Regions from separate parts of the Homo sapiens genome. Here region 1 is linked to region 2. Evidence: fine-mapped expression QTL. A gene starts in region 2. The other region holds a variant in brackets. All regions are shown on one strand. Distances are between the middles of the regions.

Region 1 (12,620 bases), 34 kb after region 2:
GGGTATCAGCTCATTTGGCCTCCTATCCCCTTCTTTGGATGTACATCTCAGGTCACCTGCTAGACTGCAAGTTCTTGGAGACAGAACTGATGCCTGGCTTACCTGCGTATTCTCACAGTCCCAACCCTTGCTAAAAGATACTCAATAAAAGTGTGTTGGACTTAATTTAAAGGAAAATGCAGGCTGGGGGCAGTGGCTCACACCTGTAGTCCCAGCAGCACTTTGGGAGACCTAGGCGGGTGGATTGCTCGACACTAGGAGTTTGAGACCAACCTGGCCAACATGGCAAATCTCTGTCTCTACAAAAAATACAAAAATTAGCCGGGCATAGTGGCGTGCACCTGTAGTCCCAGCTACTCGGGAGGCTGAGGTGGGAGGCTAAGGTGGGAGGATGGTTTGAGCCCTGGTGGCAGAGGTTGCAGTGAGCCAAGATTGCACCACTGCACTCCAGCCTGGGTGATAGAGCCAGACCTTGTCTCAGAAAAGAAAAGAATATGCAGCAGCCACGCTCAGTGGCACATGCCTGTAATCCCAGCACTCTGGGAGGCTGAGGTGGGCAGATCGTTTGAGTCCAGGAATTTGGGACCAGCCTGGGCAACATAGCGAGAGCTTGTCTCTACAAAAAAATAAACGAAATTAACTGGGCCTGGTGGTGTGTGTCTATGGTCCCAGCTACTCAGGAGGCTGAGGTGGGAGGATCAGTTGGGCCTGGGAGGTCAAGGCTGCAGTGAGCCAAAATTGCTCCACTGCAATTCAGTCTGGCCAACAGAGCAAGACCCTGTCTCAAAAAAAAAAAAAAAAAGAATTGAAAAAATACATCTAAACCTGTAGGCTGGGTGTCCTAAATCTTCATTTTTCTTTTTGCTCAGCTTGAGATGGAGAATCAGCATCTGAAAAGCCATAATCAGCGCCTGGTGGAGCAGGTGGGATCCCTTCAAGATGCGCTAGAAGGTAGGCAGGCCAGGGTGTGCAGGTGTGCAGTACGTGTGTTTGGTGGGTATGGGGCTGAGCTACGGGAGCTCTCAATGTGACTGTTTTTACCCGAATCACAGCTATTCAGATAGCTCCTTCACGGAAGCTGCTGGTGCCCCCCTACGGAGCTGCAGAGCAGGATTCTGTCCCTTCAGAGCCGGGAATCCAGCCTATGGGCCAGGACAGTGGCTCCCAGGCCCAGGGTCTGAAGGCAGCTGTGCTTGCACCTTCCCCAGGTGCCCTGCAGAGCAAGGACTCTGTTTCTGAAGCAGCAAGCCCCTTGGAGGATTCTAGTTCCAGCACGGTCCATTCTGGGGAAACAGTAGAGGCCAAGCCCCTTCAACCTCATCTGGGAAGAGAGAGCCCTCCCCACCAGCCATGCATGAAGCTTCTTACCTTCAGATGTAGTTCAGCTTCCTGGGGTGAGGGTCTGGTTACTGCTCAGAGAGGGATGCTCCCTGGGACAAAGACCTCTGCCAGGGAAGGTGGTCCTGGCAGCAGTCTGACCCTACCAAAGGTGCGGGCTCCTGGCACCCCGCGGGACAGCATCCAGTTGGCCAAAAGGCACCACAGCCAGCCCCAGGTGGGCCATGGGCACTTTGGCCGTGTGGTGAACATTGAGACTGAGGCCTTCTCAGCCCTCCACCCCTCTGGCCTTCCTGAGCTGGAGTCCCGAGCTAGGTCCCGGGAGGAACCAGAGAAGATGGAGATGGAGGAGCCACCCCCAGCAGGGAAGAATGAGGAAAGAGAGAGCCCAAAGGCCCTTGGAGCTGAGCTGGAGGAAGTGGAGCTGGGTAACAAGCCACCTACACCCCCGCTGCACCAGTTTTCATCCTGGGTAAGAGGCAACCTCCGGGCTGGGCAGAGGAGCAGAGCTAATGGCAAGAACACTGCTGGCTGAGCACAGCCATGCACTGAGCAGGAGAGGAGGCTGCTGGCATCCTCATGGTGGCCCTGGCAGGCAGGTACCATGGAGCCTGTGCAGACCACACAACCAGTGAGGGTCAGCGCCAGAATTCAGAATGATGTGAATGGCGGTTGGCTGTCATTTCCTGAGTGCTCACCGTGCACCATACATTGAGCTGGGTGCCCTGCATACCTTTTCTCATTTAATCTTTGTGAGTCTTTCAGGTGGTCTGGTATGATGGTCAAGAGCATAGGCCCCAGAAGCAAACCACTAGGGTTGAACTGTTAACTACGTGACCTTGGACATGTTACTGAACCTCTGTGCCTCAGCTTCCCTGTCTATAAAATGGGGATAATAGTACCTACTTTATAGGGTTGTTGTGAAAGTACTTACAGTAGTGGTTCACAGTAGGTGGTAGGTAAGTGTTGGCTATTTTTCTTTCTTTGTTTTTCTTTTTCTTTTCTTTTTTTTGGGGGGTGGGGGTGAGGGGGCAGAGTTTCACTCTTACTGCCCAGGCTGGAGTGCAATAGCATGATCTTGGCTCACTGTAACCTCTGCCTCCTGGGTTCAATCAATTCTCCCGCCTCAGCCTCCCAAGTAGCTGGGATTACAGGCATGCACCACCACGCCCAGCTAATTTTGTATTTTTAGTAGAGGCAGGGTTTCACCATGTTGGTCAGGCTGGCCTCAAACTCCTGACCTCAGGTGATCCACCCTCTTGGGCCTCCCAAAGTGCTGGGATTGTAAGTATGAGCCACTGAGCCTGGCTTTTTTTTTTTTTTTTTTTCGAGACAGAGTCTTGCTCTGTCACCCAGGCTGAAGTGCAGTAGCACGGTCTCGGCTCACTGCAACCTCCGCCTCCCAGGTTCAAGTGGTACTCCCACCTCAGCCTCCCAAGTAGCTGGAATTACAGGTGTGTGCCACCATGCCCGGCTAACTGTTTTTTTTTTTTTTCTGAGACAGAGTCTTGCTCTGTTGCCCAGGCTGGAGTGCAGTGGCACAATCTCAGCTCACTGGAAGCTCTGCCTCCCAGTTTCACGCCATTTTCCTGCCTCAGCCTCCCAAGTAGCTGGGACCACAGGCACCTGCCACCACGCCCGGCCAATTTTTTGTATTTTTAGTAGAGACGGGGTTTCACCATGTTAGCCAGGATGGTCTCGATCTCCTGACCTCGTGATCCGCCCGCCTCAGCCTCCCAAAGTGTAATTTTTATATTTTTAGTAGAGTCGGGGTTTCACCATGTTGGCCAGGCTAGTCTCAAAGTCCTGACCTCAAGTGATTCACCTGCCTAGGCCTCTCAATGTGCTGGGATTATAGGCAACTGCGCCAGGCCAGCTTCCTTACTTGTAACATTGGATAAAATGTCTTGATATCTGTCTGGTAGAAATACTTCAGAAGCAATGATCTGGTTGGTGGCCAAGGGTGGGGACACAGATGAAGCATGACTGGCCACACATCATTAACCTTTGCCAAGCTGGGCGATGGGCACGTGAGATCATTCTTTTTTTAACTGAGACAGGGTTTTACTCTGTCGCCCAGGCTGGAGTGCAGTGGCGCAATATTGGCTCACTGCAACCTCTGCCTCCTGGGCTCAAGCAATCCTCCTACTTCAGCCTTCTAAGTAGCTGGGACTACAGGCATGCACCACCATGCCTGGCTAATTTTTGTATTTTTAGTAGAGACAGGGTTTCACTATGTTGGCCAGGCTGACATTTTTTTTTTCTTTTCCTTTTTTTTTTTTGAGACAGAGTCTTGCTCAGTCTTGCCCAGGCTGGAGTGCAATGGTGCAATCATGGCTCACTGCAGCCTCAACTTCCCGGGCTCAAGCAATTCTCCCACCTCAGCCTCCCGAGTAGCTGGCACTACAGGCATGCACCACCATGCCCAGCTATTTTTTAATTTTTTGTGGAGATGGGCTAACACTATGCTGTTGCCCTGGCTGGTCTCGAACTCCCAGGCTCAGGTGGTCCTCCCACCTTGACCTCCCAAAGTGCTGGGATTACGGGTGTGAGCCACTGTGTCTGGCCCTGTACCTGACATTTTCCATGATAAAAAGTTAAAATAAAAATGAGACAGGCTATAAAAATGACATTTCACAGGTCACTAGTGAAAATGGCATGTGGGTATTAAGGGCTTCGCACGGAGCCTGTGGGAAGGGCTCCTTTCCTTGCAAGGAGTAAGGTGTGGTTTCTCCCTTTTACAGGTCAGGAAACCACTGTTCCCCACAGACTTAGGTACTTGCCCAAGGTCATGTAGTAGTTAGTGAGGGAGCCAGGCTTTATTTATTTATTTACTTGAGAGACGGTGTCTTGCTCTGTCACTCAGGCTGGAGTGCAGTGGCACAATCACAGTCCACTGCAGCCTTGTACTCCTGGACTCAAGGGATCTTTCCACCCCAGCCTTCTGAGCAGCTGGGACTACAGGTGCACACCACCACACCTGGCTAATTTTTTAAATTTTTTGTAGGGATGGAGTATCCCTATGTTGCCCAGGCTAGTCTCAAACTCCTGGCCTCAAGTGATCCTCCTTTGTCAGCCATAAGAGCCACCTTACCCGGTCTGAGAGCCAGGCTTTAAATGTAGTTCCAGCTGCTTTGAAGCCCAGCTCTCACATTCCAGCTGTACTTCCTCTTAAGGGACATTGCCAGAGCTAAGGTCAGTCTTTGATTCATGGGCAGACATCCCCTCCACAGATGCTGCTGGGGTGTGTAGCAGTACCATGGGGGACAGCTAAGCGTTGGCTCCTGGCAGCAGGAGGAATGAGGTCACTTGGGAGAGGGGGTGACATCAGGGTGGACTCACCCCACACCACTGCTCGGGAGACCTGTATTTCCAGCAGTAACTCCCAGGGCCTCCTTTTGAAATGCTGGTTCAAATCCGGGCTCAGTAGCTTATGCCTGTAATCCCAGCACTTTGGGAGGCTGAGGCAGGCAGATCACTTGAGGTCAGGAGTTCGAGACCAGCCTGGCCAACATGGCGAAACCCCATCTCTACTAAAAATACAAAAATTATTTGGGCATGGTGGTGCACGCCTATAGTCTGGCTGCTCGGGAGCCTGAGGCAGTAGAATCGCTTGAACCCAGGAGGCGAAGGTTGCAGTGAGCTGAGATTGCGCCACTGCACTCCAGCCTGGGCGACAGAGGAGACGATCTCCAAAACAAAACAAAGAAATGCTGGTTCGGGAGGCACACAGCCCTAGACTTTTGGGCTATATCCTTGGCAGTGACTGTTGATCAGCTTCTGGTTGTTTCAAGGACACCTGTAAGACTGGAGACCCAGTTGAGCCAAGAGTGGGGCACATCAGGAAGACTAGGGGATGGAAAAGCACTGGTCCCCCTGGGCTGCTGGCTCTCTTCTTGCTCTGGAGTCCAAATGCAGAGGTTGGGAGCAGGAAGTAGTCAGGCAAGGAATGTGCAGCTGCTACCAGAGAGAAGCGTTGCTCACTTTGCCATTTTGCCAAAATACAGCCATTCACTGTGATAGCTTAAGAGTAGGTCTTGAGCCGGGTACAGTGGCTCACACCTGTAATCCCAGCACTTTGGGAGGCAGAAGCAGGTAGACTGCTTGAACTCAGAAGTTCAAGACCAACCTGGGCAACACGGCGAAACCCCATGTCTACCAAAAAAGATACAAAAATTAGCTGAGCATGGTGGCACATGCCGGTAGTCCCAGCTACTCAGGAGGCTTAAGTGGAAGTTAAGTTTGAGCCCAGGGAGGTGAAGGTTGCCATGAGTCAAGATCTTGCCACTGTACTCCAGCCTGAGTGACAGAGCCAGACCCTGTCTTGAAAAAAAAAAAAAAAAGAGTGGGTCTTCTCTATCTGAACAGGTTAAGTGTATGTGTGTGAGAGAGAGGGTGGAGGAGGAGAGGAGGAATGGGGAGACGAGGAGTTATTGTCTCCTCTTATTCTGTATAGAAAATATATCAGATGACGTTCTCCCCAGGAACCTCAGCTGAACTCTGGTGATGAAGGTATTAAGGGGATTAAGGTATTAAGGGGCAGCGTCAGGTCTTCCCACAGAACCTCCCTGCCCCCAGCTAGGCCCCAAGGACCCAAGAATCAGCCAAAAGAATGTAAGGAGATCTCATCCTGTTTGCAATCCCCTTTGTAACTTGCTCCTGGGGAAAACAAGACACAATGCTAGCTCCTTCCCAGGCCCCTGAGGCATGATCACTCGTGTTCCGTGTTCCGGGGAGAGCTTAAGAAATCACAGTGGCCAGAAGCCCAGCCTCTCTCTCTCCCAGGCAGGACCAATGGGGCAGTAACCATCTGGGGAGGGCGGTGGGGGAATGAAATGTCAGAGAACATTTCTCAATCTGACGGTGTGAGAAATACTTATGTATCTTAGAGTTTGGAAAGCCCTTTTTTCAGTTAATCCTTAAAACAACCTTGTGAGTTAGGCATTAGATAACATTTTGTCAAACAGTCATAGGTTTCGTTTTACCTAAATCCTTCAAACTTCAGTTTCATTTCCTCTGCAAAGTTAGAGGCTTGTCCTTGGTTAAATTCCATGACCACTCTGGGCAGAAATAATCCTTTTTATGCCGAATTTTACTTGGGCTCGATGTATCTGCCCTACACGAGCACAGAAACTCCCTGCCCTGCTGCAGGGCCCTCCTTGGCATCCTTCCTCACCGCCCCTCTGTCTCCTGCCGCCCCTCCAGTGATCTCAGCGTCTCATGGCAGCACTCATCAGCTCTGCCCTCTCTCCTCCCAGTTGTCCCAGGGCTGCTGCTCCCCTCTGGGATGACACCCTGATAGGCACCCACCTCCCTTCCAATGCCATCTCCTAGCCCATCTGACCCCACCAGGTGACAGCACATCTAGCTACCTCCCTGAGCCAACAGGGCATTCCTCCAAAGGCTGGTCAACCTTCCCTCGTCAGCCTTGGTGACTCACGTCACCTTTGTTTTCCTTTAGGCTCAGTGGAGCAAACAGATCCAGAAGGTGCAGGGAACCCTGTGGGTTGTTTATGAGCAGTCAGGGCCATTAGGAAAAGCTCCTTTGGCCTGTGGCCTACTTCAGACCCAGGGGCCCCCTCAGGACGGGCATTCTCCCAGTGTCTTCTGCATGGGGGTGCTGGAGTCCTGTTGGGCTAAATAGGCTTTGTAGATTGGCCCTGAAGCCTAGCCATGATATGACATTATTCCTGCAGGGGAAAAAACGTGCCCTAAGTTCCCACATATGTTCATCACAGCACTACTCACAATAGCAAAGACATGGAATCAACCCAATGCCCATCAATGGTAGACTGGATAAAGAAAATGTGGTACATATACACCATGGAATACCGTGCAGCCATAAACAGGAATGAGGTCATGTCCTTTGCAGGGACATAAATGGAGCTGGAAGCCATTATCTTCAGCAAACTAACGTAGGAACAAGAAAACCAAACATTGCATGTTCTCACTTACAAGTGGGAGCTGGACAATGAGAACACATGGACACAGGGAGGGGAACATACTTAGTGGGGCCTGTCAGTGGATGGTGGCGGTGGGGGAGTATTAGGGAAAAGAGCTAAAGCATGCTGGGATTAATACCTAGGTGATGGGTTGTTAGGTGCAGTAGACCACCATGACACACGTTTACCTACATAAAAACCTGCACATCTTGCATACGTACCCTGGAACTTAAAAAACAAACAAATTATTTTTTAAAAAAAGAAACAATAGAGAATTTTTTAAAAATGTGCCCTAAGTTCCAAACAACTGGCTTACAAAAGAGCCCTTGTCGTGTGGCCGCAGTGGCTTCCTCATTACCAATATCCCCAACTTCTGGGGGTTAGATCTTGAGACCCAAGGGTCTCTAAAACGGGTAGGATTCAGAGCAACAGTTTACTGACCCATCTTCTCTTGAACCTCCTTTGCCCCAAAGGTGAAGGGTGGAGGCAAGAGAGGGAACTGTTGGGCACTGATTATATTCCAGGTGTTAAATGCTTATGTTAAGTATTTCATTGATTCTCACAGCAGCCTGAAAGGTAAGTATTATTACCTCCATTTAGAGCAGAGGAAAATGAGTCTCAGAAATGAAGTAACTTGCCCAAGATTTGTTAGCCAGTCACTGCCCCCCACAGGTCTGCCCACCCCCAAAGCCATGCTTTTTCCTGCACATGCCTGGAGGGGGTGGGATGGGCATCATGCCGGGCCCTGAGCTTCCTGAGACCTCTTGTTTCAGGAGAGCCGGATCTATGCTGTGGCCACATCGGGCATGCGGCTCTCAGATATGTCTCCCAGAAGTAATACTGCATGCTGCGGTGAGTTCCAAGTGAGGCTTGGAGGCACCAAACACCCAAGGTGGGCAGGGTGGGCAAGCGGGGAGGAGAAGACTCCAAGCAACACCCAGGGCCAGGGTTGGCTGGCCTACCCTGTTCCCCTCCCCAGCAGGTGAAGTTCAGGTGAAATCACAGCAAGTCCCACCTAGGAGGGAAAGGGAAGTCGTACAGGTTCAGCCCATCACAGGAAAGTAGCCAGTCACAGAGCTGGAAGGGATCTGAGAGGGGGCCTCCAGCCCAGCCTCCCACCTGCACAGGCTTCGCTTCTGCAGTGCCAGGGCCGTGGGTGGGAGGAGCCACAAGTGTCCTGATTTACATGAACCCCACTCACTGGCTCCTCTCCAGCCAGCCACCAAATCTCCACAACGAGGGCTGTGGGGTGGTCCCATAGCCGTATGATTTGTAACTCACATCTGCAACAGTGGAACACTGTGCAAGCCTCATGGAGGAAAAAATGGTTAAAGGTAAGGCTTTTGGATTCTTTTGTGAGGGA[T/C]CCTTTACCACATGGAGATCATGGTCCCCAAAGGGAGTCAAGGGGAGAAGATGAACAGGGCCCTGGCCCCCCTCTTGAGATCTGTCACTGGCCTGCTCCTGGAGGGAATGCCATCTGCCCAGTTCTCTGCTTCCCCCACACCCCTTCCTGGGTTATGCCCTTGAGTAATCTCATTCCTCTCTTCCCTGCTCAGCTTCAAGCCCTCCTGCCCTTGTTTCCCCTGGGTCTTTCTCTGGCCTGGTCTACAAGAATGTCACTGTGCCTGTCTACACAGCACTGAAGGGGGTAAGAAACTGCTGCACAAAGAGGGGGTGTCTCATCAGGAAAGGCCCCTGGCCTCATCATCCAATGACTGGGGCGGGGCTCTAGGGCCAGGCTTCTGCACATGGTGACCCTGCCCAGGGAGCTGAGCCCAGCACGTGTCATTTTGTTTTATTGTTTATTAGGTTATTATAAAAATTCCACATTTACAAAAATGTGAATCAGTATGAACGTGGACAAGGTAAGAAGGTTAAGCCTATGCCCGCTTTACAGCTCTCCCCACCTTTTCTCATGTCTGCCTCACTCCTCAGGTCCCAGAGGGCAGTGGGGCTCCTTCTAGAATTACTGAGGTATATTCCAACTTATATTCCCGTAACGTCACTACATTTTAAAAACAAAAATCAGATAGAATTGCAATATTTTCATACACATTTTTGTCTCTGTTACTGGTTTTTGAATAATAGTAATACTTGATAAAATTTTTTATAGAAGAATAAAAAACCAAAAGTGAAATTTCCTCTCACGTCGCTTTTCCCTAATTCCTAAGCCCAGAGGAAGCTATCATGAATGGTTTAGTGTTTATTCAGTAAGGCCTTCCGATGCATTTATAAATATGCAGCACACTCTCACTGTCTCCTGTGTGCACACAAAAGGTGCTCATATACATGTCATTCTATGCCTTGCTTGTTCCCCTAACCACGTGAATAACCACGTGTCAGGTCATCCTTCCCTACCTCCTCCTTTTTATTTTTCCGAGACAGAGTCTGGCTCTGTTGCCAGGCTGGAGTGCAGTGGTGCAACCTTGGCTCACTGCAACTTCCACCTCCTGGGTTCAAGCGATTCTCCTGCCTCAGCCTCCTGAATAGCTGGAACTACAGGCGCGCACCACCATGCCCAGCTAATTTTTGTATTTTTAGTAGAGACGGGGTTTCACCATGTTGGCCAGGATGGTCTTGATCTCTTGACCTTGTGATCCGCCTGCCTCAGCCTCCCAAAGTGCTAGGATTACAGGCATGAGCCACCATGCCTGGCCCCTACCTCCTCCTTCTATAGGTGTCCAGTACCCTTGGTATCGAAGCACCATAACTATTAATACCTAAAGCTTTCCTCCAATAATAATTTAGTCTGTGTCCCTGTTTTTCTCTAAAATGAATGTTGCCATGAACATCACTGTGCACATATATCTTTGGGAACTTATATCTACATGTGTCTGTAGGACAGAGTTCTAGAGGTGGGATTTCTGGGCAAATTATATACATGTTTTAATTTTTGACAGGTACTGCCAAATTACCTTCTAAAAATGCCTTACACACTAGAGTTTTTTCCCCCATCTTCTCCCCATACTCTCACCAACACTGAGATAGTCAGTCACTTTAAATGTTTGCCAATGGAGATGCAATCATTGATTGTTGCGACGTCCCCACACATTTTTAAAGCTCGCATGGCACACTTAGTCTGTGGTGTAGCTTTCTGGCCCCCTAGTGGCAAGGAGCGAGGGTCACAGTGGGCAGGCATTCAGTCGTGATGGGCAGCTGCTTTGGGGACCACAGAAGATGGTGTGTGGGAAGGGAGGCCTGAGAAGCATGGAGGTCATGACACAGGAGTGAGGCCAGGAGGGACCTTACACTGGACAGTTGTCTGTTCAGAGTCCCGGCTGGGGGTTGGCCACACCATGGGCACTTGGACCAGGAGTGCAAGCTGCAGGGTTGGGAGAGGACTGTTTTGCAGCCTGAGCTGCAGTGAGGGAGGGGCCTGTCTTGCAGAGAGCTACACAGATCAGCAACATGCCCTTTATGGACGAGTCCTCTGGGTCTGACGATGACTGCAGCTCTCAGGCGAGTTTCCGAATCTCGGTCCCCTCCTCTGAGTCCAGGAAGACCAGCGGACTAGGCAGCCCCCGGGCCATCAAGAGAGGTACAGAGAAGGGGAGCAGGGGCAGGGTGCAGCAGCAAGGAGCCCCTCACCTCTTCCCATGGGCACTTGAACATGGGCGTCCCCACTTGATCTGAGCTCGTGACCCCCCAGCAGCTCCACCCCCAGCCCCAGAGACCGGGTCCCGGGTGGGTGGTCAAGTCTCAGCAGCTCCTGGGCTGCGTGAGTCGGGGAGGTGTGGGACCCGGGCCTTGACTCCTCCTCCCTCGGCAAGGCGTCTCCATGTCCTCACTGAGCTCCGAGGGTGACTACGCCATCCCCCCGGACGCCTGCTCACTGGACAGTGACTACTCAGAGCCTGAGCACAAACTGCAGCGCACCTCATCCTACTCCACCGACGGGCTGGGCCTGGGCGGGGTGAGCCGGGAAACGGGCGGGGGCAGGGTGGAAGCAGAATGCAGCAGAGGCTGCTGGGGCCCTCAGCACAAGACATAGGCAGTAGCTGCCTGAAGTGAGGGGTCCCTAGAGCTGGGGGATGGGGGCAGGGGGCGTGGGCTGGGGGGGTGTACAGTTATGGAGTCAGACACACAGACCCCACAAGGAAGGAAGGAGGGAGCCCAGAGAGCTCCTGGAATACCAGCAATGGCCAGTTACTGAGAGCCTACTGTGGCCCACCAGGCCCCATGAAGAGTTTTCCATATATGACTTTGTTTTATCACCTGGAATACTAACGCAAGCTAACATTTATTGAACTCTTGGCACCAGGCACTGTGCTCAGTTTCCAGGCATTGTCTCATTTGTCCTCACAATCCTCTTGGGGTCATTAGCCCATCTTATGGATGAGAAGCCTGAGGCTCCAAGCTGTGCCACTACATGCCAGGGCTAGCATCCACTCCCGATGTAATTCCGCATCCCTCGCCCCACACCTCTCTGCTGCCCCATCATCTCCCTGGCTCCATGACCCTCCAGTCCTGCCTGGCTGATGTGTCCAGGTTGCCCAGACCTGCCTTGCCCTCTCCCTGCTCTGTGCTGCCTGGAATGGTCTTCTTCCTCCTCTCAGTCTTTGAGGGAGAGGCTGAACTATCCTAACAAGGCCAGCTCAGGGCCGGCTCTCTCCTGACGCTCTCCCTGGCCAGGCTCTCCCTCTAGCAGCCCCTGCTCTGCTACCTTCTCATAGTGAGGTCTTCCCCAGCTAGCATGGGAGCCCTTCCTTGGCAGGACCACCCATGTTTTATTTAGTCCTCTCTGAACCATAGCAGGGCATGGTACTCTGAAAATACACTGAGTAGGTACTCAATAATTTTGTATTTAATTGATGACCGAGTAGTGAGGCAGCTGGACCACTTGGACCTGTGTGATGTCTAGGAGCCCTGAGTGATTTCCCCTTTCTTCATCTACACCCTTCCACCCCTCAGGAGTCACTGGAGAAGTCGGGCTACCTGCTGAAAATGGGGAGCCAGGTGAAGACGTGGAAGAGGCGCTGGTTTGTCCTGAGACAGGGACAGATTATGTACTACAAGTCCCCGGTGAGAGTCTCCCCGCCCAGCACTGCAGTCAAAAGGTCTCCACATCACACCCTGGACTATGTCAGATGGGACGGAGGAGGGGGAATGTGGCCCAAGGCCAGAGGGCAAAGGTCTGGCAGGTGGGGAGAGGCAACCTCACTGGGCCCCTGAGGCTTTGAGCCACACTTGGGGACCTAAGCCTGGCCGTGAGTTTCAGAATGAAATAGGGAGGTTCTCAGAAGGACCCATGTTCCTGATTAAGGTTCCATTTAGCTATAACCAGAATCTAGAATAAGTCACCCATCATAACACAGCCAGAATGCTGGGAATCATGTTTCC
Region 2 (12,620 bases):
GATTTTTAATTAGGAGATTAGAAAGAAAGATTTCATTTGTTTGCAGTGCCCTGCAATGGCTGGCTGTGTCCCCGGTGTGTTTTGGTGAAGTTGCTTCTATTCCCATTCAGCAATTCTCAGATAAACCAACAATGTGTTTTGTACCGCAGCAGCCCCTCATTCCCCAGCATGACCCTGGTGAAGTGTCCATTAATTCCTTATCTCCAGGCTGAGGATGGCAGCCACGAAGGTCCTGCTTCTATTTTACAGTTAGGTGAGGCACAAAGAGTTGCTGAGATGTCCTCAGATTGCGGAGCAAAGTAGTGGCTGAGCAAGAACTCACTCACAGCTCTGCATGTAGGACCCCACCCCAGACCTCTGGCCTCTTCCTGTCAGCGAAAGTAGTGGCTTTGAGGAGGGGAGGTCAAGGAGCATGAAGAGGCCCTCCAAAGTCCAGTTGCCCTGTACTGAGCCACCTACTCCTCCACGCTCTCCCTCTCCTACAGTGGCCCACTGTGGACACTCGGCAAGCACATGATGAATGTATGAACACAGGACCTCTCGTAGTTCAGCTCTGAGATGGGCTGGTGGGGACTCAGATAGATTGGAGTGTGAGGGTGAGGTAGGGCTGGGAGACTTTCCTTTCTCTTGGCTTGGGTCTGTCTTCTGCTGAGGAGATAATAATAACAACCAGCATCTACTGAGTACTTACTGAGTGCCAAGAACTGAGCTAGGTGCCAAAGCTGGAATTTGAACTCTGGAAGTTGAACCCCACTGTCAGCATGAAAACCCATTGTCTACAGCGGCCACACATGTGTCCCAGAAAAGTAAAGGGTCACTGGCAGCTCTCTGACAGGCCTGGGTTTCCTTGGCTTCTTGGAGCCCTAGTCTCTCCCCACACAGGCTCCCTGGGCTGTTGGAGAACCTGCCACCTACTTAAAGCTGGTCCCTGCCCAGTTCCTCCCTCCCCCAATTGATGTGAGCAGCCATTGTTCTCATCTTTGATGAAAGCTGTTGGAGAAATAAGACAGCTGCTTTAAAACTAGGATGTTGCAAACTCTAAAATGATCTAGAATTGCAGTCAGATGGCTGGATTTACCTGATCCTCATTCCCTGAGCTCCACCAGCTCCCAACTCAGGTGCTCTTTCTCCCTCCCTCTCCTGTCCCTATCCCATTAAGCCCCCATTCACCTGGCTCTCTCTTGCCCGTATAACCCGCAGCTGCAGCGGACAGAGCATTTTGCATTGATATGTGTTGTAATTACATCAGTTCCGCCCTGGCAGTTGCTCTCTGAGAAAAATCACTCAAGGGCATACCAGTCAATACAGACCCCAGACAGGTGCGTGACAATGCAGACTCCTGGGCCCACTGATCTGAATAGCTAGAGGTGGCCTGGAATCTGTATTTTCAGATCAGCATTTTAAGACATGAGGTTAGATTTGGAATCACTGCCCACCTCCTCATTGGAATCCTTCTCCACCAGGCCCTCCTTCCATGCTGCTCCTCCTGGGTACTTTCCAGCTCCCTAGTCTTTGGGCGCCTTGCTAGTCCTTTACACCTCTACACCTTCAAGTTCCCTCCTCATTTCATAATATTTACTAGATTCCAATAATATGCCAGGCACTGAGGCAGGCCCTTTATCTCCATCTTTATAATAACTCTCTAAGGAAGGAATTCTGATTCCTGATTTACAAACGAGGAACACCTTCCCTCCCCTCCCCATCCGCTGCCTGGCTCTCTCTGGCTCCCATACCCACAGGTATACTGAACAGATTATTTGCAGTGAATGTATGTGGTAACTGCATTACTTCCACCCTGTGTCCCCTGGGTGGAAGAGCCAGGATTCAAGGACAGGCATGTCTAGTTCTAAAGCCTGTGCCCAGAGTTGATAGGTCACACTTGCCACACTTTCCTTCCTAGCACAGTGGCTGGAAAATAGCAAGTATTCAATAGATATTTGTTAGTGAGTAACTGAATGAATAAATGAAAGAAGAGTCCATACTTAAAGTTAGGACACTTCCTCCCATCTTTCCATACCCATCTCACATGCACACATATACACGCTCACACACACACTGAGGATTTAGCCACTGGGCCATTTCCTTTCCTTCCTAACTGGCCCTTCTCTGCATGTCCAATCACTGCCTTCCTAGCCCCACTTAGATGGTGACTCTTGACACTCTGCTCTAACCCATGGTTACCTCACCTCTCATGTCCCATGGTGGCTAATCCTGACAATCACCGAAGAGCCAAATTGCTCCCAAAGATTCAGCAGTAGAAGTAACCTCCTGACTTCTTTGTGACCCAAGGCAGAGAGCAGAAGCCTGGACTAGGACTGGCCCCAAGTTTCCTGGGAGTCTGAAACTCCCTTCTCCTTCTTCTCCCCTCTCTTCCCCTTCCAACAGTAACTGAGAACCAGGTCCTGAAGGCAGGAGGAGGGGATCCCTTGATTTGAGGCTTTTTTGGTGATATAGGAGAGGGTCTCTTTGGAGCTCAGAGAAAGCAGGTAGGGATGGGAAGCAGGGTTTCTAGAAGGCTCGTACAAGGGAAGATGAATTGTCAACCATTTCACCAGCTCTCCTAGAGTTATTCCTGTCTCTCAAGCCATCTGCTTATCCATTGCAATCTTGTAAACAGAGATTTACAAGATCTCTCGTAAACTCCAGCCAATATTTGTTCAAAGAATAAATAACAAAAGCTTCCATTTATAGATCACTTGCTGCATGCCAGACAACATACTATCTCATTTAATCATTTCAACAACCCTAAGAGGCCAGAATTATTATCATCATTATTTTACAAACATGGAATTAATTCAGAAACCTTAAGCAACTGCCCCAAGGTCCCACCACCACTTAAGTGATAAAGCTTAAACTGAGCTCTGGCCAGTTCCAAGTTCCCCTTTCCCTCCCATAGTGCTGTCCAAGGAACAAGGCCCAGACTAAGATGCTGTAATATTGACTCTGTAGGAATTTATTTTTTAAACATTCCAGCCTAAACCATGTAGTGTGTGTATATAAAGTGACTCTCCTGTAACTCCTAGAGTGGTTAGTTAGCATCTGAAGTGCCCTAATCAGGAATCCGCACTCCAGAAAATGGTTACATAAGCACTTCAAACAACATCAAAATATACACCCAAGGGCTTAATGTGCTTGAGGGATGCTAGAAATAATCTTTTATTGGTGAAATAAGCAGTTTTCAAAACATGGAGTTGGCCAGGAAGATTATTTGCCCTTGCATGAATGGAGTGTGAGAGCCAGAGCAGGCCAACTGCCCCATTTTCTTGAAGCAGGCTGTGTGACTGTTTTGTGCCAGCTTGCCAATACATGTATATTTGGCAGAATTTGGCCTTAACTATTTTTAATATCCCACCTGCAGGAGATTACAGAAAAGAAGACGAATGGCCTCCTCTCACCTCTCACGTCCCATGGCAGCTAATACAATCATTGAAGGACTAAATTGGCTCAGACCAGTTGACAAGTCCCCATCCCGGCCTCATCTTCTTTCACAAGAATGCCCTAGCATATCCTTCAACTCAGGCACATGATGGCTTTTCTTCCCATCTCTCTGTTCCATCCTCCATTCTCCTTTGTCAGGTCACTTGTAATAATAAGCTAATATCCAAAGAAAGGGGCTCTAGGGGTGATGGTGGGTATTATAGTCCCAGCTACCTGGGAGGCTGAGGCAGAAGGACTGCTTGAGCCTAGGAGTTCTGGGCTGCAATGAGCTATGATTGCCACTGCATTCTAGCTTAGGCAACAGAGCAAGATCTTATCTCTTAAAAGAAAACAACAACAACAACAAAAGTTGTAACTTGCCCAAGTCACATAGCTAAAAAGTGGAAGAGACATAACTGAAACTCAAGCCTCCTAAATTCCTAATGTAGGGTTCAGTCCACCTCTACCACCCTCCCACAGACTGCCAAGGGGTCCTGCTCAGAGTTGGGCAATGGTGAGATGCACTCTATGGCCCCAAACTCATTGAAAGTAACAACTGAGCTGAAAAAAATGTGGAGTCTCTTCTGCCCTCTACAGAAGTAACCAGCTATAGGGGAGAGCATGCTCCTCCCATTCCACTCTCCATGGTGCGTCTCTTTTCACTATATAACAAAGTTATATTAAATGAGTTCTGGGCCGAGGTGCGGTGGCTCATCCCTGTAATCCCAGCACTTTGGGAGGCCGAGGCAGGAGGATTTCTTGAGTCCAGGAGTTTGAGACCCCACCTCTACTAAAAAAAAAAAAAAATTTTTTTTTTTTTTTTTGCTGGGTATAGTAGCATGTGCCTATAGTCCCAGCTGTTCATGAGGCTGAGATGGGAGGATTGCTTGAGCCCAGGAGTTCAAGTTACAGTGAGCTATGATTGTGCCACTGCAATCCAGCCTGGAGAACAGAACAAGAAGAACCTATGTCCAAAAAAAAAAAAAAAAAAAAAGTGAATGAATGAATTAATGTCTTCTTAGCAAAATCCAGAGAACGTGTTTTTGGGCTTCCTTATGCAACTTCTGGAATGTTGAAGTGGATAGCCTGAGCATTGTCCCACAAAATGGGGCTAATCTATCCCAATCCCCACGAGCTATAAAGCTGTTTGCAAGTTCAGCCATTGAAGTCCCATTGGCCCAGTTAAATTCTCACGTTTGGCCTCCTGCACTACCAGCTTTCCTTAGTGTCTGGGCTCTCAAAACTTCTACGTGAGAATGGCCTGGGGTACTTTAGTTAGAGATTCAGATTCAAACCCAGGGTGGGGGTGTTCTTCATGGTGCCTGGGATGAGTCTTCCAAGGACCATTTGGAGAAACAGGCGCTGATGGTATTTTGCTTCTGTTCAGTCCTTCACTGACAGAGAGCCTGCAGGGTTGAGGAAGAAGGCTCTGTTTTGAAGTGTGGATCCCTCCCTGCAATGGTCTCTATTTGCATCTTCTTTACTCCAGGCTCACCTAGCCAAATGTTGAGTTTTCCAACCCCTCTGGGTATGAGATTGCTTTGGGCGATCTGAGATCTGCAAATGTCTGAGAACGAGGAGCACATGGGCACGCTGATGACTGCCCTGCAAACTGCCTGGCAGCCAGGGTCCTCCTGGGCCCTCCTTTAAAATAACATATACATAAGCCGGCCTGGAGGCCCAGGCGGGAAGATCACTTGAGCTCCGGAGTTCGAGTCCAGCCTGGGCAACATAGCGAGACCAGAAAATAAGCAAGTAAGTTACTCTCTGGGCTGTCGTAACTTATTTTTTCTTTTTCTCCTGCAAATTGCAACTCAGAACATTTGGTCTGCCAGACTGAAATATGGACTTCTGTTCCAAATATCCAGACGTTACAGTTCCCACAGGTGGCCAGGAGAATGCTGGAACCTTTGGCGGAGACGGTCTGGTCTTGTCCCGCAGCCCGCGAGGGTCCCCCGCTATTTGGGGTCAAGCAGATCCCCGGGGCGCTCTGGCCACCCCTTGCGGCAGCTGGTGCGGCCTCCTCGGAGAGCTCCGGGCCGGCGCCCGGGACACCCCGCCGCCCTCCCTGCCGCCCCAGGGACGAGCCCAGCGGTGCGGAGAAGTGGGAGGCTGGAGCCTGCTGAGGTCATTTCCTGTGCCTCTCCGCGAGCTGCCTGGAGAGCTGAGCCCAGCGCTCTGCCTTTAAGGAGCGGGCGGGGAGCCGAGGGGAGGAGGGCGCCCGGCGGAGCGTTGAATGGGGCGCAGCAAGGCTCGGCCGGGCTTTGTGCAGCGAGCCCGCGGGCACCCCTCCCGCTCCAGCCTCGCCCCGCCCCGCAGCCCACGACCCCTGCTGCCGGGGAGGGGAGAACCGGCGGCAGCCCGGGACTCCGGCGAGAGCGACGCAAGGTCGGCTGCGGCGGCGGCCCGAGGGCGCCCGTGTGCCCAGTGCGCGGCGGGGACGGCCGCGAGCTCGCTGGAGGTGAGCGACCCGCGCTCCCGCCGCTGTGGTGGGCTGGGGCTGCGCCGCGGCGGAGGGCGTCAGGCTGCGCGCGGGGGACGGCCCCTCGGGCCCAGAGGACGATCCGGAGCAGGTGCCTCCCTACCTGGAAGCGAGCTCCCAGCGGCGGGGAGCGCTGGAGCGCGGGTCTGGCTTGGGAAGCCGGGCGCCCCAGGGGACTCGCGCCGCGAGGCCAGGAGGAGCCTCCCCCGGGAGTACCTGGACTTGGGGATCGGTCAGATCCAGCCGCTCCTGGGAAGGGCCCTCGGAGCGGACGTGCAGGCTGCCACCTTGCTATCGGTGCTCGCTCCCTTTCACCCCTTCCCGCACCCCTCCCCATCTCACCTCAGGTTATTTCTTCTGTGATTTCTGAGTGTTGTCTTTGGGACCCTATGGCTCAGGCTCGACTCCTAGGAGCAGGTCATTCAAGCAGAAAAGAAAACAGGTTGGGCGCCGAATGACACAGAGCATTGTGTCCTAGGAGTCTTAGCGAGGACTCGGTCACCAGGAACCAGGGGCCTTAGTGGGGGTGGCAGAGGCGGTGAAGAGCCTCATCTGGAAGGAAACTCCTCTCCTTGTGGGATTTCTGCTTGCCAGGATATCTCCTCCATAGCTTTTACTATGAATCCACCTCATAAAACTCTTCCAAGACAGAGCCTTGGTTCAGGTAAAACACTTGAAAGACCATTTAAAAAATTCAGTGGGAGAATTATCAGTTCCTTCATCAAACTGTTTGGACTGTCTTCTATGTGACAGACACTGTGTATAGGGCTAGTACCATCACTGAACGCTTTATAGAACATCGGTATTAGTGTTTCTGCATATTATTGGCCCCATTTTTCCAAAGGAGGAAGCTGGGACTCTGAAAAGTTGTGATTTAGGCCAGTTGCAGTGGCTTATGCCTGTAATCCCAGCACTTTGGGAAGCCAAGGCAGGAGGAGAGCTTGATGCCAGGAGTTCAAGACCAGCCTGGGCAACATAGGGAGACCCTGTGTCTACAAATAAATAAAAATTTAAAAATTAGCTGGGTGTGGTGGTGTGGGCCTGTAGTCCCAGCTAACTTGGGAGGCTGATGATCCTGTCTGTTAAAAAAAAAATTGTTGTGATATGCCCATGGTCACATAGCTAAAAAGTGGAAGAGCCATAACTGAAACCCAAGCCTCCTAAATTCCTAACGTATGGTTCAGTCCACTTCTACCACCTTCCCATAGACTGCTGAGGGGGCCTGCTCAGAGTTGGGCAATTGTGGGGTGCAGCCTGTGGCCCCAAACTCATTGAAACTAACAACTAAGCTGAAAAAATGTGGAGCCTCTTCTGCCCTCTTCAGAAGTCACCAGCTGTAGGGGAGAGCATGTTCCTCCCATTCCTGATAGAAAAAAAAAAATCCAAAGAAATGTCTGGCAATTTAAAGTGTACATCATTTACCCCTAAATTCCATTTTCTGGGACTTTATCCTTCAGATATACTCTGATGTATATGAAATGGTGTACATCATTGAATATTCATTGCAGCATTGTTTAGCAAAAGGTTGGAAACAATCTAGATGTCCATCAATAAGGAACCCTTCAATAAGATCATGTAAAAGCCACACGATAGGATACATTAAAGCTGTTATAAAGCGTGCAGAGAAAATGTGGCAGATATATACTTTGATGTAGGAATATCTCTAAGTTATATTGTTGAGTACAGTGTGTATGGTGGGCCACGATTTTTGGGTGGGTGTGTGAATGCCACATACATATGAATGCCTGTAGATGCTCTGAATATCTCTGAGAGAACACACAGAAACCTGTAACAGTGGTTGCCGCTGGGGAGAACTATGGCTGAAGTACAGGCATGGGAAGAAGCCTTACTTTGCACTATATACCCTTTTGTTCAATGTTCTAAAATAACTTTAAAAATCATATGACCTCCTCTCCAGATCTCCAGAGTTAGATCTGGTAGTGAGCACATCTTTTTTTTTTTTTTTTTTTTTTTTTTTTGAGCCAGAGTCTCGCTCTGTTGCCCAGGCTGGAGTGCAGTGGTGCAATCTCAGCTCACTACAACCTCCGCCTCCAGGGTTCAAGCAGTTCACCTGCCTTAGCCTCCCAAGTGGCTGGGATTAACAGGCATGCGCCACCACACCTGGCTAATTTTTGTATTTTTAGTAGAGACAGGGTTTCACCATGTTGGCCAGTCTGGTTGAACTCCTGACCTCAGGTAAGCCGCCTGCCTCCACCTCCCAAAGTGCTGGGATTACAGGCTTGAGCCACCGTGCCCAGCCTCGTGAGCACATCTTTGGGCCACATCTCCTTTTATGTTCTAGATGCTATTGGTTTGCCTTTGTTTGCTGATTACAACAATAACAGTCATTTATTGAGTACTTAGTGTGCACCAGGCTTTTGTAATATCTCCTTTAATTCTCAAAAAGCCCTGCATGATGTGATATATGAAATGGCCATTTTGAAGGTTGGAAAATGGTTAAATGACGGTTTCATATGGTTCAACCAAATATTATTGTCCTGATTTTCAAATATTACTGCCCTCAATTTCAGAATGGAACTGAGTCTCAAAGAAGTTAAGCAAATGGCTTAAGGCCACAGGATTATTTAGTGCCTGAGCTCGTATTCAAACCCAGGCCTGTCAGTGCCAGAGCATGGGATCTTAGGTACTAAGCTGTTTCTCTTTGCTGTTTTTGTTCTCAAGGAATGTTGTACCTGGTTGTCCTGACCACTTCTTTTGGTATTGAGGTTCCTGCGGCCTAGGACATGCTCACCTTCTCTGTCTCCCCGGACATTGTGTGGAATGTCATGTAGGCACCCAGCAGTGGCCAAATGGATGTTGTTAGCTTGATCAGATGACAGTGCTGAGATCAGAGGAAGTTGTCCCTGTGTACACTCACACCCTTCTCCCAGCCTCATCCCCAGAAACGGGACACAAAGCTGTTTCTCTCCCACAATTGACAAGTAGTCAGCCACGTCTGGCAGAGCACTTTTAGAAGATGGTGGTAGCCCCTCACTAGCAAGTGGAAGTCATACAGATACTCACACTCAGGGAATGAACCATACTGAGGCAATATGAGAGAGCCCAGTGGAAACTGTGCATATAACAGAAGCCCCGTTGCCTTCCAATGCCTCCTGCATCCTCCACAAGATAGAGGCAATGAGCTATTTTGAGGCCTGTGGTGACCTCTGACCTCTTTCTTTTAGGGTCCTGTATTGATTAGCTACCTTTGTAGGGAGCTACCAGGATATTCAGGCTGTAGACTTGAGCCTCAAAAGCCACAATATCTTTATTCATCTTTATATCCCCAATCTTGCACACAGGACTCACTTAAAAGTTGTTTGTATTAAACTTAATCTTGGGGTCGGGAGTGGTGGCTCACGCCTGTAATCCCAGCACTTTGGGAGGCCAAGGCAGGTGGATCACCTGAGGTCAGGAGTTTGACCAGACTGGCCAACATGGTGAAACCCTGTCTCTACTAGAAATACAAAAATTAGCCAGTGTGGTGGCATCCGCCTGTAATCCCCGCTACTCAGGAGGCTGAGGCAGGAAAATTGTTTGAACCTGAGAGGCGGAGGTTGCAGTGAGCCGAGATTGCACCATTGTACTCCAGCCTGGGTGACAGAGCGAGACTCCATCTCAATAATAATAATAATAAAATAAAAACTTAATCTTAGGCTGGGTGTAGTGGCTCAACACACTTTAGAAGAATGAGGCAGGTAGATCACTTGAGCCCAGGAGTTCGAGACCAGCCTGGGCACCATGGTGAAACCCTGTCTTTACAAAAAATACAAAAATTAGCCAGTGTGGTGGCATCCACCTGTAATCCCAGCTACTCAGGAGGCTGAGGCAGGAGAATTATTTGAACCCGGGAGGCGGAGGTTGCAGAGAGCCGAGATTGCACCATTGTACTCCAGCCTGGGTGACAGAGCGAGACTCCATCTCAAAAATAATAATAATAATAATAATAATAATAATAATAAAAACTTAATCTTAGGCTGGGCGCAGTGGCTCAACACACTTTAGAATAATGAGGCAGGTGGGTCACTTGAGCCCAGGAGTTCGAGACCAGCCTGGGCACCATGGTGAAACCTTGTCTTTACAAAAAATACAAAAATTAGCCAAGCACAGTGGTGCACGCCTGTAGTCCCAGCTGCTTGGGAGGCTGAGGTGGGAGGGTCACCTGAGCTTGGGAAAGTTGTGGCTTCAGTGAACCATGATTGTGCCACTCACTCCAGCCTGGGCAACAGAGTGAGACCCTGTCTCAAAAGAAAAAGAAAAAAAAGTAATCTTAGCATTTTGTCAGTTTCTGCTCAAAATCCTCAAACTTGCCAGAGAGATCCCAGGTCAAATTTGTGTTTTCTCTGATACAGACTCTGAGTCTGGAGTCACCTAATGACTTCCTGTGCCACCTTCCCACCCATCCTACTCCCAGCCCCTGCCTCTGGGGCATATCCCCACTGACTGCTGTGGCATTTCAGTCCCGGGTGTTGGAGGATTCAGGGGATGCCAAAGCAGGTATCAAGACTATGGCAGTTTTTTGATTCACCTGCCAAGCAGTTTAGCAGGCTGGGTGCCAGCAGAATCAAGAAAACTATGAGTTTCATAAGACTGGCCAACAGCTGATCGTAATTTTAGCGGGGTATTGGGGACAGAGGGACTTATTGTACTATTCTCCCTATTTCTAATGTGTGATAGAGCATTCCAGAATAAAAATAGAAAAAAAAATTGAGCTGAGTTTTGTTTCCAGCTCACTTCCCCTCTCTCATTTCCCCATTTATTTTTTGCCATTAATGTATTTGTGTTAGACTAGCCTGTTAGTATGAGATATCTGCTACCACTACTGAAGCATCATCATGGGAAGAGGACAATTGTAGATATTGGGAGATCAGGATTCTTGGCCCAGTTCTGCTACTCCTTAGCTCTATGCAAGGCTCTAAGCAAGTCACAGATGTGATGAGTTTTCTCATCTGTTCATTGTGACTAATTGTGTTCGTCCTCCATCTCAGGGATAAAGAGAGAAATAACACATGCGTCGCAATGCTTTGACAAGTTACAAACTCTACTGCAAATGTAAGGTATTCATTTCTGCTCATCCTTGTGCATTTTTATGGGAGGTATAAGTGCAAGGTGACTTAGCAGGTGAGGCTCAGCTTACTGGTATCTTCCTTTAACCTCCCTTATTTTATAGCTGTTGCTCTGACCACCTGCTTCTGTCAGAAGAGCCTCTGGGCCTTGGGTTTGGCAGCAGGCACCCTGCTCCTGATCTATTTCAAAACCTCTCTGCTCTCCTCACATGCTGAGGCAAGCCAAGCACGAGTCCCAACCTCCTCAGCAACTTGCCAGGGAGAGGGTGGTTAATCCTCTCCATCCCCAAGGCAGGGAGAGGATTAAACAGACCACTTGATCAGTTCAGAACCATGATGTTACGGAGATGCTTGATTGGGGAAAGCATTCCCTAAACTAGGTATAATCTCAGATATCAGGGCTAGGCAGACACCAGTGACATATTTCCAAAGTACTTGGAGATTTTGATAATTTGGGTTTTCACTCTCCCAATAGAATCTGAGCAGCAGCTTTGACAATCAGTAAGAGGGAATCAATATTAATCAAACTCTTTCAACTATACAAAGGGATTACATTTCCCTTGCCCCTTGCTTTTATGCTTTTACTGTTATTTCTTAGCCCTGAACTGAGTTGCGAGACTCCCAGGTCCTAGTCTCAGATCTGCCACTTTTCCTATTTATACAAGGAAAAGCAAAATCCCAGTAAAGGACAAGGAAAAATCAAACATGAAGCCTCCCGGCCTTCTCTGAGAGCCTTACAAGGTTCTGTTTTGTCTTTTCAGCTGTGATCTTAGCTCAGAGAAGGTCATGTTTTGTTTTTGTCTTTTGTCTTCCTGCCCGTTCCAGTTGGTCCTAGTCTTTTGAGATGGGGATTGCTGGGAGGTCACAATGCAGGGATTGTTTAGATGACAGGGCTGGGAGAGCAGCGCTGAAGTCATGTGTTCTGAGGAACCAAGAAGCGAGCTTACTCGGTCCATCAGTGGTTTAATTGTTGGGCCTTTCTCTGCAGGTCTTATTTTTTAGATGAAAAGTCAGGATACATGGTAAAGGTCAGTGCTTGGGGAGATTATGGTGTCAGAATATTTGAGCCCAAGATGTCTTGGGAAATCTGGGATATAGGTTCATCCTTGTGCTAAGGCTTCTGAAAGATCCTAGAAACGATTTCTGCCATTTTCAAGTCTACCACACTCTTTGTGAAATTGAAATTCTTTTTATTTTTTTTGGATGGGTAAAGAGCACAGAGTGGCAATGAACAAGGAATTTGGGACCAGAATCCCAGCTCCACCATTAACTAGCTGTACAATTATCTGTAAATTACTTAGCTTCTCTGTTCCTCAGTGTCCTCATGTGTGTGTGGACAACAGTGCTTACCTATTGTTTCACAGGTTGTTGTAAGGTTTAAAGAGGCAACACATGCCTGGCATACAATAAAGACTCAATAAGCAATAGCTACTTGTAGTGTATGATGGGAGAAAAATACGAATAAAAGTCACATGCGAGGGGAGAAGCACGATTGGTGATTAGCCCATCAAAGAGAGGCTAACTTTGCACTGTGGTAGTATCTGGCAACAGTACAGGAGGTGGCTGGGTTTTCTGAGGCCATGTGGCTCCTGAGGAAGGAAAAGGGGATTTTGAAAAGCAACAAATTTTTATTATGGAAAATTCCAGGCATATAT

Alleles and levels. Alleles are on the strand shown, and positions count from the first base shown. SD is a standard deviation of normalised expression in the study named.
For the expression in thyroid of the gene that starts at base 5,770 in region 2, C is the high allele of the variant in region 1 and T is the other (small effect, 0.15 SD a copy in GTEx).

The links. PIP is the estimated chance that this variant, and not a neighbour inherited with it, causes the effect.
Region 1: its variant is fine-mapped to the expression of PLEKHH1 in thyroid (GTEx, PIP 0.98).

Annotation. Positions count from the first base shown.
Region 1 is chr14:67,561,085-67,573,704 of GRCh38, forward strand. It overlaps PLEKHH1 (pleckstrin homology, MyTH4 and FERM domain containing H1), which reads left to right. Exons shown (of 29, transcript NM_020715.3): 6 at 870-951; 7 at 1,053-1,810; 8 at 8,054-8,132; 9 at 8,837-8,928; 10 at 10,668-10,818; 11 at 11,051-11,193; 12 at 12,192-12,302. It also overlaps a transcript of GPHN not described here. Among named protein-coding and RNA genes, the nearest start is that of PIGH, 33 kb to the right of the region's middle. RefSeq lists an enhancer at 10,383-10,562. The variant T/C (reference allele first, on the strand shown) is at 8,644.
Region 2 is chr14:67,527,521-67,540,140 of GRCh38, forward strand. PLEKHH1 (pleckstrin homology, MyTH4 and FERM domain containing H1) reads left to right here and starts at 5,770. Exons shown (of 29, transcript NM_020715.3): 1 at 5,770-5,878. It also overlaps a transcript of GPHN not described here and a transcript of TMEM229B not described here. RefSeq lists a silencer at 5,394-5,863.